2 linked regions of the Homo sapiens genome follow. The protein of the gene in region 1 interacts with the protein of each later gene in a pairwise test. Each region holds a gene or a part of one and is shown on either strand. Other genes may lie near its edges. The genes, in order: GUCA2A and TRAM1.

Region 1 (4,225 bases):
GACACAGATACCTTGGTGTACACGGACACACATATACCCCTCAGCATACACACACATACACCTCAGCATATATACACATACACTCCTCAGTGTACACACATGCCTCAGCACACACACACCTTCAGCACAAGCACACATACAAACACACCTTGGCTACACACACCCATCAGGGTATATACAGACACCTTGGCATACACAGACATACACATCTCCGCAGACACACCCCCCCTTAACACACACACACACACACACACACACACACTCACCAGAAAGGGGTGGGAAATCCAGTGCAGCTGTGAGGACTGCCCTGGGAGCTGGGCCAGGAGCTACCTGCCCCTCCCTGAGGGCCTTGTCCCTGCAGTTCCCTCCTGGTCAGGCCCTGCTCTCTCCAATTCCCTCTTCAGTGTTGACTCTCCCCACCCAGGAATTCCTGCCCAACCTCCCGCCCTAGGGCTGTCCTGGCATCGGGCCAGGTTGGCTGAGTAGAAAGATGACAATCCCAGGGCTACCCTTTCTCCTGTGTCCTGGGGATTCCTGCTCACAACAGCACACAGTGAATGCACGCTGCCCTGAGGGCGCAGTCTGAATGGGGTCAGAGTCTATAGGGGCGCGGGCACACCCAAGCAATTCCCCAGTGAGATCCGCGGAAAGGGGACTGTATCTGCAGGGGCAAGGGGGGCGGGCGGATTGGGGAGGAGCTCATTCGAGGACACCCTGAGGCTGCAGGGCAGGCAGGACAGGATGGGGACCAGCACAGGATGGGGACAGCCTGTGACTCAGACAGGCAGGAGGTCACCAGAGGGGCCAGGGAGGACCAGGAGCTGCTGTGGCTGCTAATAATATGGGAATGGACCTCTGCTGAGCACCTTCTGTGTGCCAGGCATTGAGCTAAATGTTTTTAAAACCTCACTTGATTCTCCAAACAGTAATGCCTACCACACACCTACCCCATGAGGTAGGTATTATTTTTGGTTCCCACAGGGGACACAAGGGACAACGAGACTCAGAGAGGGGAAAGCATTGGCCCAAGTTCACACGCCTCACAACTGGGCAGTAGGTGGAACGGAACCCAGGCTGTGCGGAGGGCTTCCTTGAGGTCGCGGCAATCAAACCCAGACCCTGACTTGCCCTGCAGCCTCCCCCGTGGAATTTCTCACATTTCCCTGAATATTCCAGGCCCGTCTCACCTCCTGGCTGTCCCTTTGGCATGAAATGGCCTTCTGTCCTCAGTCCCTTCTCTGGGAAAACTTCCACCCATTCTCCAGAGCTCAGCCCCCAGTGCAGCCCCGTCACCTCATCCTAGGATCACCCCACCCTAATCGCCCTGCGTTTCACTGTCGGGCTGGGCCCCCCTCCTCAAGGGCAGGGTCTGCCGGCCCCACACAGCAGCACAGGGCAGTCGTGAGTGAATGTGCCTTGTTGGTGAATGAATGCAGGACCCAGCCCGGCTGTGGGTCAAAGTAGGTGCTCAGGGAGGGGCCGGGGCCCCCCCTGCCTGGCTCTTATCTCCTAGGGCTGTCTCGAGCCTTATCTGATAAGGCCTGACAGGTGAGCAGATGAGACTGACAGAGGCTTCCAGGTTACTCAGTAACCTGCCCTCTTTAAAAGTCCCGCCGCTTCCCCCTGGCATCCAGAACAGCCACCCCTCTCTCGGGCACTGCTGCCATGAATGCCTTCCTGCTCTCCGCACTGTGCCTCCTTGGGGCCTGGGCCGCCTTGGCAGGAGGGGTCACCGTGCAGGTGAGTCCTGTGTCCCTACCCCGGCCCAGCTGGCTCCCTGCCCCTAGTGCCCAGGTCTGGTCCCCTGAGAGAGTACCTCCTCTTTGGGGCTGGATTGAGGGTGTGTGTCCCAGGCTTGGCCTTCTTCGAGGAGCTCCTGCTCAGTCCAGCCACACACACACCTTTCCCTTCAACTTTGGAGGAGAAAGAAACCCAGTGGAGGGAAGAGGAATAACCATATGGGGAAGGCGGGGAGTTGGCCAATTTACTGAGTGTCCTATGTGCCGGCTCCTTCCCCAGCCCCTCACTGTGGCTCCACTATCAACCTGGAAGAAAGGGATCATTAGTCCCATTTTACAGAGGGGAAAACTGAGCCTCACAAAGGTTCTGTAACAGGCCATGGGCACATGGCTGTGGGAAGTGCAGGAGCTGGATTTAAATCCAGACCTTACTCCTCAGTGGGTCCCAGGAACCACATGGACACCCTGGAGGTCCTGACAGATGGGTATGCCTACCAGTGCCAATGCTGGCGACAGGCCAAGCTGGCACCTAGCGGGGGCCCTGATCTCTATCAAAGCCAGATTCCGGGAGGCCTTTTATTGCTTCTCAAACCAAAACCAGGCTGCAGGCTGGAGCTGGGGGCCCAGTAATCAGCCGCACCGCTCTCAGGCAGGGGAAAGACAGCCTGGGCTTGGCCACGTGGAACTACGATGCCTGGGTGCTGGTCCTTTGCCTCTCCCTAAAAATCAGCACACTGGCTCCTACTCATTAGGCACCTATGGTGTTCCTGGAGCTTCACACCCATTTTCTCCATTCCCCATACAACATGCAGAATTTGCGGGTTCCAGAGTGTCCAGCATCACGGAGCCAAGCCAGGACGTGGGGCCTGAACTCTGCCCCTCACAGTGCCCCACTGTGGATCGCCTGGCTCCCATATGCCACGAACACTGCCTGTGAGCACCACTGGGCTGGACCGGGGCCAGCACGGGGGGCACAGCCAGGAAGCAGGCTGCAGCCTGGCCTCATGCTCTGGGCTTCTCTCTTCCAGGATGGAAATTTCTCCTTTTCTCTGGAGTCAGTGAAGAAGCTCAAAGACCTCCAGGAGCCCCAGGAGCCCAGGGTTGGGAAACTCAGGAACTTTGCACCCATCCCTGGTGAACCTGTGGTTCCCATCCTCTGTAGCAACCCGAACTTTCCAGAAGAACTCAAGCCTCTCTGCAAGGAGCCCAATGCCCAGGAGATACTTCAGAGGCTGGGTGAGCAGCCTCCTTCCTCTCTGATTGGTGGGGTTCGGGAATACTGTGGTGGCACTTGAGGAAGAGATGTGCTCTGATTGGTGGGATTTGGAGGAAGGGCTCAGCTCTGACTGGTGGAACTAGGGAGCTTGGCTCTGATTGGTGGGTCTGTTCCATGCCCACTTCAATTCCAAGTTGTAACTGCTGAGGTTTGGGAACTAAGACCATTCATCTGGTCTTAGTTTCCTCTCTTTCTGGTGGAATCTCTGCTTTGATTGGTTGGTTTGAGTGGTCTGTGTGCCCTGGTTTGGGGCGAAAAGCCCAGTAGGTCAGAGTACGGGCCTGCTGAGATTCTCCTGGGGCTGGGTGGTGACGTACAAGCTCTGGGCCAAGGGCGGCAGGGGCCTCGCGAGGAAATGCTGGTTCTCACGAGGCTCCATCTCTGTTGTGCAGAGGAAATCGCTGAGGACCCGGGCACATGTGAAATCTGTGCCTACGCTGCCTGTACCGGATGCTAGGGGGGCTTGCCCACTGCCTGCCTCCCCTCCGCAGCAGGGAAGCTCTTTTCTCCTGCAGAAAGGGCCACCCATGATACTCCACTCCCAGCAGCTCAACCTACCCTGGTCCAGTCGGGAGGAGCAGCCCGGGGAGGAACTGGGTGACTGGAGGCCTCGCCCCAACACTGTCCTTCCCTGCCACTTCAACCCCCAGCTAATAAACCAGATTCCAGAGTACTCTGGGTGTTGCCTTCCTTCCTTCCTTCATCCCCTAGTCTATCCTGCCCTGGAAGCTCGGGATGTAATGTACTAAGCGAAGGACCCCACTCTCCCTGCTAAGCTGCTCACTGTCCCTGGGGCTGCCACAACACAGAGGCGTGGAGAGGATCTGGATCTCCAAACCACCAAGGCAGCGGGTGGTGGGGAGGGTTTGCTTTTATTTCACATCTCCTGAGGTCACCAAGTTCACTGAGCCACATGTGAGCACGGGAGCCAGTCTGAGCTGGTTTGGACAACCAATACAGGCACTTGGCCCACTAGAAGACTGGCACCAAACTCTTGGGTATTCAAGGACTTGGCTCCCACCAGCCATGCTAGTGTGGCCTCCAGCCCTGACCACATCCCAAACCACACCTCTTGCCATTTCCTCTGCTGCTGCTCACCTCTCCACTGCCCGTCTTCCCACACTACTGTCCAGGCAAACTCCTACTCAGGGTCCAAGGCTTTCATTCCACGGCCTCTCCTCAAGACAACTTGCTCAACCCCCCAGGAAGA
Region 2 (2,673 bases), on another chromosome or scaffold:
TGTAAACAAATATCCCCAAGGACTTCGCTGTCAAATGTGAAAAGTTTCTTTATTTCTACAGAAGGTATTTCTCTTGAATACTATTTTTAAATTCTTGTGACTTTATAGTTTTCTGTGCTGTCACTTTTTTCTGCTTTTAATAGTAGTTTTCTTTTAATTTGCTACTTTCAGTTCATTGTGTTAAAAATGTTACCAGGTTTTGTGATTGGTTAAATACTGGTAAGTAAATTTCACCTGAGTGAATTGGATTTTACATTTTCTTTTCTGAAGGTATCTTTACATATAAAGATTATAACTTGCATTTATTTATAAAAGAGAGTAACATGGATTCTTTTCTTTTTGCAGAAAATGGTGTGAATGGAACATTAACTTCAAATGTAGCAGACTCTCCCCGGAATAAAAAAGAGAAATCTTCATAATGAATTATAAACTAATTGATTAATGTCCCCAAAGAAATCTGCTTTCTACTATATCTTTCAGCATTAGAGATTTTTCTGTTCTTGAAAATACAGTCTGTGCTCTTTGATTTTTGCTATTGTACGGTTTCATGCATTTTTTTAAAGGGCATTTGAGGGGAGGATTATTGCTATGAATGAAAAAAATATTTTAGCTTAGACTAAGCTACCTGCCTTCAAAATAGTTTAGGGACCACCACCATATTTTATTTTGTTTTTATTTTTGAACATTTTTCTAATGATTTGGAGAGAAAACTATTTACAAAAATTCCACATATCAGTGATACAATTTCTTGCTGTCACCAATTTTTTATAATAGCAGAGTGGCCTGTTCTAAGAAGGCCATATTTTTTAAGTTATCTTTCAGGGTAACATGGAAATACTATAAAGTTGGATGTCAAACTTTAATATGTTTTCAGTGTTCTCTAATTTTTTGGAATTTTTGTAGACTTTACACCTGGAAAAAAAGATTTGTAAAATCACCGGAACAATTGTGTGCTTTATTTTATAGGTAGTGGTTATTAGTATTACATCCCCATTTTAAAAACAAAAACATAATAATCGTTACAACACGTGGAGTTTTACTAACATACATATTAAATCAAAGTATATTCTTAAAAGTACTTGTGAAGTAAAATCTTTCTTGTGCATTTTCAATACTTGTAAACTGGAAATCAGAAAATATTTACTATGAACAGGAAAATCTGACATATAGCCCTTTTTGATATGTTTATTAATAATGATTCTTAATGGGGCTCATAATAAGTTTAATATGCACAGCATCTTAGAAAAGTTTAACCTGCAAACACTTTTAAAACATAATGCCTACTTGATTTATATCTATAAAAAGACTGACAGGTAATTATATTTGGAAAACATTTAATGCACTAACTTTAAAGAAATTGAAAATTCAGGTGGATAAATAGTCTTACAAAAGACAATGTGCTTTATGTTATACCTATAGCTTTGGTCCCATCTTTAATTGAGAAACATTTATCTGTATAAAACATATTTTTGGATAAATATATATATATATATTTGTATCTCTACAGAAAGGCTCTAAAAAGCATTTGAGGAAAATATTTGGTTCCCTTTTCTATAATCATCCTTTAAGATTCTTATAGCTACATTTGGTTTATTCATCATATTTACAGTATATATATTGTTCTTTTCAGTGTTCACATCTTGTTCCCCATTTCTCACTTGTGTCACCAGCTGTTTGTGCCATTTTTAGTGTAAAAGTTGCAGACCTATTAGATCTGCAGTTTAAGTTGCCATGCTGCTAGGAAATTGTCCTTTTTCTTTCTAGCTGTTAACCTACTTCCTGGAAAAAGTAGTAGCTCTCTGTAGCATTATGGAGTTTCAGTGGAACCAAATTTTTGCCATTAAAAACTGGCATTATACTGAACTATACATTGAGAAATCAATCAAAATAAAAATTTTTACTTTCACAAGTTGTATCCTGGATGTTTCTGTCATTGTTGGTGTTTAGGCTATTTTGGTATATAACCTCATTAAAATGTACCATATTTAAAACACTTCATAGACATTCAGAATAACCCTTTTCAAAATTGTGTTCTGCAAATAAACAGATTTGTTCCACAGAATATTGGTGAGGACTACTGGGGGGATAGATGGTCATAACCAAATAAATCTGGGAATCACTGGATTAAACTAACCTAAAGGTGTCTCTTTATTATGGGACCGTTCAGTCCTTAATATGCAAACGTGTTTCCTGGTGCACCAAGAATGTTGGATATAATATGCAGTGTTTCCCACCTTATTTGCCTGTAGAATTTTCTGTTCACTGAATTACTATAGCACTTTGTTTTCTGCAGCATACACTGTGTTTAGGCAAAGAAAAAAAAAAGCCCTTGACATGTCATTACCAAGGGCTAATATATACACAGAAGCACATATACACACAAGTATGATTATAAATTATGAGCCCTACATCCTGCTCTCAAATGTGCTGAGGAAAGTCTGTACTGGCTTCCAGATCCTGCAGAGCCTGCCATTATCACCTGGGCTCAAGTCGAGCTTCAAAGCATGATGGGAATCCTGTAGGGACCCACACCTGGACAAGGCTCATGGCTCTGTCTTAAACCCGGGGGGACCATGAATTAGTTGCTTTGCTACTCTGGGGTTTAGTCTTTCCCTCCACAAAATGCCTCCTGCATTTTTTTTAACTGTAAATTGACAATTTATAATTGTACGT

The links.
Region 2: the proteins of GUCA2A (region 1) and TRAM1 interact in binary tests that used the Homo sapiens proteins (3 or more experiments, as listed by UniProt).

Annotation. Positions count from the first base shown.
Region 1 is NC_000001.11:42,162,153-42,166,377, reverse strand, and holds GUCA2A (guanylin precursor), read left to right. Parts: upstream 1-1,632; 5' UTR 1,633-1,665; coding exon 1,666-1,740; intron 1,741-2,767; coding exon 2,768-2,975; intron 2,976-3,407; coding exon 3,408-3,472; 3' UTR 3,473-3,688; downstream 3,689-4,225.
Region 2 is NC_000008.11:70,572,678-70,575,350, reverse strand, and holds the end of TRAM1 (translocating chain-associated membrane protein 1), read left to right. Parts: intron 1-345; coding exon 346-419; 3' UTR 420-2,133; downstream 2,134-2,673. UniProt on the Homo sapiens protein: Involved in the translocation of nascent protein chains into or through the endoplasmic reticulum (ER) membrane by facilitating the proper chain positioning at the SEC61 channel.